4 separate regions of the Homo sapiens genome follow, and regions 1, 3 and 4 are each linked to region 2. The links come from fine-mapping of genetic effects on gene expression. A gene starts in region 2. Each other region holds a variant in brackets. All regions are shown on one strand. Distances are from middle to middle.

What was found.
Region 1: its variant is fine-mapped to the expression of DYSF in whole blood (TOPMed, PIP above 0.99).
Region 3: its variant is fine-mapped to the expression of DYSF in blood mononuclear cells (TOPMed, PIP above 0.99).
Region 4: its variant is fine-mapped to the expression of DYSF in tibial nerve (GTEx, PIP 0.96).

Annotation. Positions count from the first base shown.
Region 1 is chr2:71,529,520-71,532,206 of GRCh38, reverse strand. All of the region lies in intron 14 of DYSF (dysferlin), which reads right to left. Among named protein-coding and RNA genes, the nearest start is that of DYSF, 64 kb to the right of the region's middle. The variant C/T (reference allele first, on the strand shown) is at 1,433.
Region 2 is chr2:71,465,590-71,468,276 of GRCh38, reverse strand. It overlaps DYSF (dysferlin), which reads right to left and starts at 1,578. Exons shown (of 56, transcript NM_001130987.2): 1 at 1,344-1,578. The coding sequence starts at 1,434.
Region 3 is chr2:71,371,798-71,374,484 of GRCh38, reverse strand. All of the region lies in intron 8 of ZNF638 (zinc finger protein 638), which reads right to left. Among named protein-coding and RNA genes, the nearest start is that of ZNF638, 41 kb to the right of the region's middle. The variant TAAA/A (reference allele first, on the strand shown) is at 1,186.
Region 4 is chr2:71,502,868-71,505,554 of GRCh38, reverse strand. DYSF (dysferlin) reads right to left here. Exons shown (of 56, transcript NM_001130987.2): 4 at 2,236-2,341. Among named protein-coding and RNA genes, the nearest start is that of DYSF, 38 kb to the right of the region's middle. RefSeq lists a silencer at 1-56 and an enhancer at 1,749-2,248. The variant A/G (reference allele first, on the strand shown) is at 1,508.

The DNA of each region.
Region 1 (2,687 bases), 64 kb before region 2:
TTGAATTATATATGTCCAAAAAATAGGTCAAATGTTATGGTATACTCATCTGACAGAATATTATGCAGCCATCAAAAAAAATCATTTCAATGACTCTTTAATAACCTAAGAAAAGATGAGACAACACAAGCAGTTTACCAAACTGCATGTATATAGTTGATTCTCATTATTCATGGTAGTTATGATCTATAAGGTCACCATGAACCCTGAATTAGTGAATGCTGACTCATTACCTCAGAGAAGAAGCAGGGTTAAATTCCTGGCAGCCTCTGTCACAATGTTTTTGTCAACTGATCAATACGTAACCTTGGTTTATGTGTGCTTCTGTTGAAGGACACCTTACTTTTTAATATACATTGCTGAGTCATCAGCATTGAACTCACAGCCAACGGCACTGTGACTCAAGCCTGCCAGAAGCTTACCTATCACACGCACTTCCTCCATAAAACACATCACAGCCTTTCTGAGCTGAGGAACGCCAGACAGCACTTCAGCACGACATTTGGGGCCATTTTAAACAGCGAAGTCGCCAAGAAAAGGCACAAAAATGTGAAAAACATGAGACTACACAGGACACATATCAAAGGACACACATTTTGTCTGTGTCCTTTGATACGTGTCCTGTGCAGTACCATGTTTTGAGACTCTCTGCCTCCCTGTTTCAACTCTCGTGGAGTAAATACATGTCCTTTGATCATGGACATGTCATGTTTACTCCATGAGAGTTGGAGCGGGGAGGCAGAGAGTCACCTTGTTCAACCTCAGCAACCAACATACACGCTGGGAGACTCAAATTTTTCAAAGCCCTGAAAGTGTCCACAAATCATCACTAAAGTGCCATGAGTGTTGATTTTGGGCTTGCAAATACATTTTAGTGAGTAGGCAAATTGGCAAATACAGAATCCTTGAATAAGGAAAATCAATATTTTCATGATTTTTTCCCAGCAAGTGGGAAGAGGGGAGGTAACAGGGTAGGTAATACAAACCAATGTTATCAGTAATTCTCTCCAGGGTGGTGCAGGGTACAGAATATGGTGCAGTGGGAGTTTTTGTTGTTTTCCTTGTCTCTGATTTTTTTCAATTTTTTGCAATTAATGGGTTTTATTCTTGAATTCAGAAAAAAAAAAGTTGTTTTAAATCTTCCTGTCCTGCCCTACAAGTAGGGCAGGACCTTTTCTTTCTTCCATACCATGAAGTGCACAGTCGCACACACTCTCCCACACTCCTATCTTCTTAGGAACTTGGCCAAATCAAGTATGGTTCACATCTTGGATAATACTGCCACCAGGTGTCCATAAGGGGAAATGCAAAGAAGGCCAGCTGGGGTGGGTGGGTACACAGAATGTAACCTCAGGGCTCTTCAGCTTAGGGTGTAAAGAGAGAAAAGGGACATGCAAGCAGGCTAAAAGAGAGGGACAGGCAGAATGAGACA[C/T]GCCATAAGAGCAGCAGAAGCGGGGACGCCACAAGGAGGTGGCTTAGGGCAGAGAGGACGCAAAGGCCTGGGGTCCACCGAGGAGGCTGGCCAGGTTGAAACTTTCAAGACGGAGCATTCCAGCTGCCTCCTTCACCATAAGGTCATTCTTCAACTCCCTCCACCTCCTTCTAGAGGAAAAATGGGAGGCGCAGCTTCTTGCATGAGCCCAGATGCCAATCTACTGTATACAGTGCCTTGCCTTGGCTGCCTTTGTCCTTTCACCTCCCCCTAGACACTGGTACCTTCCTAAAGAAATCCCCAGGGCCAGCCAAGGGCATCTCAGAACAGAAGACCCAGGGAGATCAAAGATGCTGGCAGGGACCCAGGAGCAGCCCGGAGCCCCGGAGCTCTGAGGCTTAGTTCCAATGAATGTGAAGGCATGTCGGTCTTGGTTCTAGCCACCATCGAAATACCTTCCATGTTGGGAATGCGAAATAAGAACAATCTCAGGACGTGAATTCCCCCAAGTGTCAAGTGGAAGAATTAATCCTAGTCCTTGGAGCTAGTGTCCCACAAAAACGTACAGCCGCAGCTTCCTGTTTCCTTCCTACCTTCAAGCAGCTGTCCCCATTCCTCCTGATGCCAGGCGCAGGGCGTAAGACCTGGACCCTGAGTCTACACCAAAACCTGCACTCAGGTGAGGATCTGCAGTAAGCATTTACACCTCCACATGAACGAGTTTAAAATCTGCATTACATCCCCGTGTACATTTTCACTGGGACCCTGTGCTAGTCTCTGAGGAGAGAGAGCCCAGCTCAAAGGGGCTCCTGATGGCCACCTTCAGTATAATTCATACATCAACACAATAATGACTGATTTAACATTAGAAATAAAAAGTATTGAGGTCCATACTAATACTCAACGAAGCGGAGGGAGAAAGCTCTTCTTTACAGAAAAAAATGTTGGCTAATCAAGAGAAAAAGAATGATAATGAGAAAATCACCACTTTGCAGTCCCAACTAAATGACTTCTTCAGACAGGAAGGTCAATGGATGCTTAGACCATTAGATAAGAGGTAGCTGAGAAGTAGGACATCCGTACAGTGCCAAGATATCACCCACAGTTTACTTGCTAATTACAAAGTGGGAAGATTTATAAGGGAGCTGTCTGGAGGCACCATTTTAACTGTGTGATCAGGCGATCATCCCTAATGATGGGACAACCTGACATTATGGCTCTCTGTTGTGATGCCATATGACATGCAGAACATCAA
Region 2 (2,687 bases):
AGCCCTATGCTAATGTGTGCCCTGCCCAGTGTCCTTAGGGAATTTCTTTTCCAGCCAATGGTGACACCGCAATTTCTGCATAGCAAAGCCTTAGGCAGCATCAGGTGGACACTGGAGAAGGAAAGACTTTGTCTTGAAGTTGCTCTTGCATAGTGAACTCCCAGGCATGTCACCAATCAATGAAAATAGTGAAATTTTCTTAAACGTTTCAAATCACATCTTTCAAAAGAGGAATACATATAACTTGTCCCACAGCAAAGAATAAAAGCTACACATAAATCTCCCTTTGCCAAATCATGTCTTTCATCTATCATTATCTTGGGGGTGCTTGGAGATATGATTCAGATCATGGGTCAGACTGAAAAGAGTTCCCTTGGTGCCTGCACTGAAGGAGGCTTATGAAAACACCAGCTACTCTTCCTTCTTCATTTGACTATCTTTTCTGATACGTAGATTTTTATTATTATTATTATCGATTCCACAAAGCTACAGGGTATGGCTCCTGGCTAAGTGGAAACCCTCTTTCCTCTCCTGATTTATCTTTCTCTGCAGAACTGGGGTCCTGACTCACAGCTATTGTTCCTTCTCTTAATTTTGACAGATCCTTCCTCTTCCCTTTCCCCTCCTGAGACACCCGCTCCAGTGGGAATCTGCCTTGGAGGGGTTGGGGGAGGGGGTTCAGGACGCCTGGTGAGAAGAGGAGTGTGTGTGTGATTTCTCTGCTGCCCCACACAGAAATACCTGTATGTATTCTAAGCACTACATGTAGGGACTTAGCTTCTTGAATTTAGAGAAAATATCCTTGACATTCCTCAAAACTCCTTGTGTCAAGGCCATTTCCATCCTATTCTGTTCCTTTTCCTACTGATTAAGACGGGGCAGATTCAATACAGCCAATGTTGGATAAAGATGGGTGAATGAATGAATGAATGAATGAAAAAAGACACAACTTTCAAAGCACATCATCTACACGCCCCGTTTTTCAGAGGCCCTGATTCCTCTCTACCTTCTGCACCCATCTTCCAACTTACCCTTATCCCCACTACCCAGTAAAAGCTCGGACTTTATTTCCTCTGGGTGTCAGTCTTAGAAAAGTGATAACCGCTGACCTACGGCACTTTCGCTTTTCCAATTTTTCAAAGCCCTGTGGCATTTATTGTGCTCTGCTTATTCCTCATCGCCCCCCTGCAGAAGTCGGGGCTGGGATTTCCGTCCCTGCTGACAAAGGGAGAAACTGTGGCCTGGACTAGGGTTAGCTCCGGAGCAGGGGCTTCAGACCCGCCAGTGAGCGCCGAGAGTCGGGTAGCACCCGAGCATGGGCGCGGCAGCCACGGGGCTCTCACCTCGGAAAGTCAGGCTTGCGACAGGGTCGCTGCGCCGGTCCTTCTTCGCACTGGGGAGGTTGCTGGCCCTCACCAGCAGGCAGCACAGCATGGCTGGGCAGCCCCGGCGGCACACAGGCGCGCAGTCAGGGCGGGAGCGGGAGCACCGGGCCCGAGCACCCACCCAGCAAGCGCCCGGCTCCCAGGCAGCCGCGCCAAGAGAGCTGTCGCCTTCGCTGCTCCTCCGCGGAGAAGTGACCAATGCCTGGGAGAGGCTGCAGGGAGGACACCGGACACCCGCTGGGCGGACCCTCCCCCTCCGGCCCCTACCCAGATCCGCCCTGCCCGCGGCGGGCGGGGAGGGACAGGGGTCAGACGGGCGCCTGTGGGGGTGCTGGTCCCTAGCTCCGCGGGTCCCAGCTCCCGGCCAGGAACGAGGCGCCGCTGACGCGGGCGCGCAGCTCGGCCTCCGAGAGCGCACAAGGCGCCGTGGGGCCTGCTCCGCGGGGGCCTCCGGTGACCAAGGCTCCACACCAGCCAGGGATCCCGGGCCCGGTGCGCACCGGTGCCGACTTGGCAGCCGCCCTGTGCGCTCGACGAAAGGGTGAGAAGGAGGCAGGAGTGCAGGCGGAAGGAGTGGGCAATCAGCGGCGGGGACGAGAGTGTGTCTTCGGGGAAACCAAGTCTGAGTGAGCGCTGAAGGGGGAGTGTGCGGAGCGTGCCGTGCACCCCGAGCCCCCCGCCTCATTGCCTCTCGCCTCTCTCCACCTGCCCCATGATCTGCGCCAGGGAGCCGGTCCTCTCCCGTCCGCAGGCTGTCTAGGTGGCCGTTCTGGTTTGCTGGGACCCCCGGGTCGGGAGAGACTCCGAGGTTCGAGTCCCCACCAACCCTCCTCGGAGCCTTCTCCGCAGCGGTGTCGAGTCACTCATCTCTGGAGGCAGAGATCTGTATTCAAATCATACTGCGTTCCCTGGAGAACTAGGGTCCAGCTGCGGCCCATTCTGTCCCCTGCAAGTCCCCCATCCCCAACAATCTCTACACTCCCTAGTCTCCACAGTGGAAAGCTGTTCAAGGTGTAAGCCATGAACGGTGACAGTCGTTTCGCTTATTATGTCTGGTTCCTTTCCAGCGTATGAACTTCTTGACACAGGGGCCCTGGCTTCGCACTTCTATCCCCCAGCACTCCAGCACCTAGCCCCTGTCAGGGCACTGTCCGTCTTCCCACCGCCCAAGTCCTCACTAACCAACCTGCTCACTCAGCCTAAACGCACTGCTGCGCAAAATCTCAACTCCCTTTCCCCTCTCTTATTTTGAGGGATACAGCATTCTCACAGGGCTAAGCCATAACCCTGGCGAATCCAACT
Region 3 (2,687 bases), 94 kb after region 2:
GAATTTAAATAAAGAGGAAAAACATTAACCAAAATGAATAAACAAAGAAAAATAACTCTACAAGAAAGACAGGGAAATATTAGGAAGCTATAGTAATTGTTGTAACAGAAACCACATAGTATTGCCACAACAGAAGAGTATGAAACACATCTATGTATACAGAATTTATACACATAAAAGAAGCTTTTCAAATCAACAAGGATAAATTAGGCATAAATAGTGTTGAGGCTAACTGGCTCCCATTTTGGAAATAATACTGATTCCAATCCTATATTATGCTGCAAATAATAGATTAAGGAATAAAACCTTTTAGGCACTAGCACAGGCAAGTTCTTAAAAAGACAAAAGAAAAAAAAGCAGGCCAGAAACAGTGGCTCATGCCTGTAATCCCAACACTTCGGGAGGCCGAGGCAGGAGAATCACCTGAGCCCAGGAGTGTGAGATCACCTTGGGCAACAAAGTGAAACCTCATATCTACAAAAAATAAATTAAAACTTAGCTATGCGCGGTGGCTTGCACCTGTAGTCCCAGGTACTCAGGAGGCTGAGGTGGGAGGATTACTTGAGCCTGGGAGGCGGAGGTGGCAATGAGCCGAAATTGTGCCACCGCATTCCAGCCTGGGTGATAGAGTGAGACCTTGTCTCAAAAAGAGGGGAACATGTCCTCAGAACCTCCTGAGGCTGTGTCACAGGCATAAAAATAATAAAGAAAAAAATGCAGAAGCCATAGAATACCAATAAATTTGAGTACATAAAAACATCAAACTTGGCCGGGCGAGGTGGCTCACGCCTGTAATCCCAGCACTTTCAGAGGCCGAGGCGGACGGATCACGAGGTCAGGAGATCAAGACCATCCTGGCTAACATGGTGAAACCCCATCTCTGTTAGTGGCGAGCACCTGTAGTCCCAGGTACTCAGGAGGCTGAGGCAGGAGAATGACGTGAACCCGGGAGGTGGAGCTTGCAGTGAGGCGAGATGGTGCCACTGCACTCCAGCCTGGGCGACAGAGAGAGGCTCCGCCAAAAAAAAAAAAAAAAAAAAAAAAAAATTCAAACTTGATATATGTATGCATAACACAAGCAACAGACTGTAAGAAAAGACTTCTTACATACAATGCAAAATTAGTGTCTAGAATGCACAATATTCATGCACCTTCAAATGAATATTTTTAAAAAGACAACAATAA[TAAA/A]ATAGGAAAAGATACAGACAACTCACTTAAACAGTTAATAGATATAGCTAACAATTATATAAAAAGATGAAGTTAATGAATAATCAAAAAGATGCAAATTAAAACTAGATATCATTTTCTATATAACGAATTTTTAAAGCTGAAGAAATTAAGATGTTGTTGGTAATACTCTCATAAATTACCAGGGAGTAAATTATAACAGTTATTTAGTGAGCAATCTTATATTATCCATTACTGTGCATCCTATAAACCAACCATTCCATTGGGTAGGTATCACCTAAAAAACCACTATCATAAATGTCAAAAGATGGCCTGTGAAGGTACACAAGGTGTTAACTAAAGTTCTGTTTCTAGAAACAACCTAAATATCAATCAGTAAGGAATTGGTAATACATCTGTGGTATATTCATACAGAGAAACACTATAGAGAAGTTACAAAGAATGAGGAATGCACTAACATGGTTAGACTACCAAATCAAATTATTGAGAAATGTGTGTTATAGAACCTCTATAAAGTAGCCATTCCACAGCTAGTAGAAAAATTAAATTACTAGAACACATAGCTGGGTGGAGCAAAATGGTAGAATAGAACCCTACACTGTTCATCCCATCCCCAGCAGGAACACCAAATTTTAACGACTATCTGCACACAGAAAAGCATCATCACAAGAACCAAATATCAAGTGAGCATTCATACTACCTGGTTTTGACTTTGTATCACTGAAAGAGGCATTGACGAGGGTAGCAGAGACAGCCTTAAATCCCTGACAGCACACCTCCCTAATCTGGCCCCACAACATGGACAGAGTCTGTGCACTTTAGGAAGGGACAGCGCAGTAACTAGGGGACTTTACATTGAACTCAGTGCTGCTCTGTCACAGTGGACAGCAAAGCCATGCTGTACTCAGCCAGCACCCATGCACTGAAGGAGCCTTTGGACCAGACCTAGCCAAAGAGGACTCATCCATCCCGGCAATAAGAATCTGAATTTCTTGGCAAGTCTCACTACCATGGGCTAAAGTGCTCCAGGGTGCTAGGTAAACCTGAAAGGTAGTCTAGGACACAAGGACAACAACTCCTAGGCAACTCTTAGGGCTGGGGCTGGGATTAGAGCTAGTGGGCTGGGATGGCATGTAACCTAGGGAGGTACCAGCTGGGAAAACTGGATATCCATATGCATTAATGAACCTGAACCCTATCTCTCACCATATACAAAAATCAAATAAAAATAGATTAAAGACTTTTATCTAAGATCTCTAACTATGAAACTACTACAAGAAAACACTGGAGGAACTCTCTCTCCAGGACATCAGTCTGGGCAAATATTTCTTCAGTAATACCCCACAAACACAGGCAAATGCTGTACAAAAATGAACAAATGGGACCACTTCAAGTTAAAAAGCTTCTGCAGAGCAAAGGAAACAACAGACAACCCACAAAATGAGAGAAAATAATTGCAAACTATCCATCTGACAAGGGATTAATAACCAGAATATATA
Region 4 (2,687 bases), 37 kb before region 2:
AAGGCAAACGGGGTCTGCAGTCAGCCTGCGGCAGGACTCCCGGCCTCCCCCACGCCTCTCAGTCTGCCAGAGTTTCCTAAGGATCCCACTGGCTCTGTGTTCACTCGTATCACCCCATCAGCAGGTTCTTTGGCCCTTAGAGGCAACTGAGAGCTACAATGAAATGGGGGCACCTGGCATGCTCTGCTGATTGGGCTTAGCTCAGAAATGAGGTCTCAGTGAGCGGCCAGCGAGAACCCTCAATGTTGTTGGCTGTCTGTCCCTGCCCAGCACACCCCCAGTTATCCCTGCCTCGCACTACAGTGCAGCCAGCCCAGGTCCCAGGCAGGAAGCCCCAGCCCAAAGGGACATATGACCTGTCTGGGGCTGCACTGTGACCTTAATGCCATCACATGGACTAGAATCTAGTCCTAGACCCTCTGTACAGGTGAGGACTGCCTCCTGGGCAACAGGGAGGAGGCTCCCCAACTCCATTTCCAGCCTGTGCTCAGCTAGTGGGGCTCAACCCAGCAGGGTCCAGCACTCTCTCCCATCCGCCACCTCCTGGATCTCACACACTCTTTTTGGAGACACGGTTGGTGAAGGATTGTAAAGCTCTGCAGACAGCCAGGAATCCCCAGCCAGGGAAGAGAAGGCAGCAGGCTCCCCGCTGGTAAACATGAAGCCCAGACAGTGTGGGAACAAGGAGCAGGAGGAGGCGAAGGGAGGTATGGAGGGGATGGCTCCAGCCTGACACGGCTCATGAATAGGGACCAGCTATGGAAAACTCTGCCTCGGGGCTGGACAGGCCTTTGAGGTTGGAAGGGACCGAAGGGCAGGAAACACCAGAGTCATGGATGCACACAGAGCTGGAGTGGAGAGATGCTGGTGTCCCAGCAAGGAAGTGAGAACCAAGCCTGACCCCAAGGCTTTCTCTCGCCAGCTGCCTTGATACCTATCATCCCTCCATCTGTGTCCCATGCCTTGAGGGTTGGGTCTGAGCCTCCTCAGGACCCCTGAAGGGGTAGTTCCAGAACTCCTTGGGGTCCTCCTTGACCACAGGGAGTGTTAAGAGACAGGAGGCTGAAACGGAGGATGAGAGGGGACTCAGGGTGATGGAGACAGGCTCAGTGAATACTGCTCTAAACCAGAACATTCTGCCAGTGAGCCCTGTGTGGGAAACAGATGGACTTTCCTGGGAAGTGACATCTTCCATCAAGGGAGCAGCCCAGCCATCCCCAGCCTAAGACCCCTTGGGAGCAAAGTCCAGCACCGAGAGGGCAGCAGACTGAGAGTTCAGTGAACCAGGAGTCCATCCACAGCCATTCCACCAGAGGGTCTAGGGGATGAGCTCCTGGTCCAGGCCCCCATGGGAACAGCCACTGACTATGTGACTTCAGTGGTTCCTTTTCTCTAGGTCTCAGCATCCAGTCTCGTTCCATTCAGAGATCTGCCCAGACCGGCTACTTCCTGACTCACCCAGCCAGCCAGGAGCCCCGGCCTCACACACCCGCCACGGGGCAGTACC[A/G]CTGCCCTGTCTGAGACAAGTCAGGGCCTGAATCCCCCAGGCCTCACAGGGCGGAAGTAGTTCCAATCCATGGTTCCTGGTACATCCTGGAAGGCGGGGCTAACCCACAGGAGAGGTCAGGAATTCTACCAAGAAGAGAGAACCCTACAGGGTATATTTAGCTCACTAAAAATAACAGGCAGAGAGGAGGGCTGGGAATTGTCTGATTGGACTTGGGGGGAGCACTGAGAAGGCCAGGGAGGGGCAGGAAGAACAACGGAGGAAAAGGAAGAGGGTCCTGGTGGGCAGGGGAGAGGGCTCTTTCCCTCCATCCCTCATGCCCTGTGACCCAGATGGTTCAGAGATTCTGAATCTGGAGAAGAGGGCTGGATGGTGAGGGAGGAGGGGAGGTCTGCCAGGGAGACTAGGTGGGCTATAGCCAAGGCTGACCAGGAAGCTGGGGACAGGAGGTGGCCAGACCGGCAGCACCAGACCAAGGGGCAGGCCAAGCTGCTGCGAGCCAAGGCTGACTTGAGCCCTGCAGGTGGGGTCAGGGCTCCCTCTGCCCTTCCCATCTCCCCTAGTCCAGTGCCCCTCCAGACACTGCAAACTCTGGTCAGGGAGGGCCAGGCCTGCTTCAAGGGAGCTGAAGTCAGATGCATGTCTGGGGTCAGAATGGCAAGGCCCAAAGAGGAAGCCACCTGGCAATGCCTTGGACCTTAACCTGGCAGAGGCTGATGGGCACTTACCCCTGTGGGCTGCTTCTTGGTGTCCAGCAGGGGGGCATTGAAGCTGGCGGACAGACTAGGGGTGGCGAGGACCTCTCGGAGTGGGACCTTGGCTTCCCCCAGGAACCTGAGAGGAGAGAGAAGTCAAATGTAGAAAACTAGCCTAAGGCACCCTGGCTCTTCTGCCAGACCCCTCACTGCCACCACTCAGATGAGGCTGGTCTGCCTAGACCACACAGTCACCCAGCACCCCACGAGGGCTCTCCTGCACCCCCACACCCAGTCACCACCATGCACCATCCCTGGAAGGCCTGGCCCCTAGGGAAATACTTGGGCATGGGAAGGGATAAGAGATACCTTTCCTTCTCCAAGGTCCACCTTGACCCCTTCCTGCCCCTCCCCAGAGGCCCAGCCACGCCTCCCCAGAGATGAAGGGTTGTCTTCCCATGAGCCCTTGACAGTCCACCAGGTCA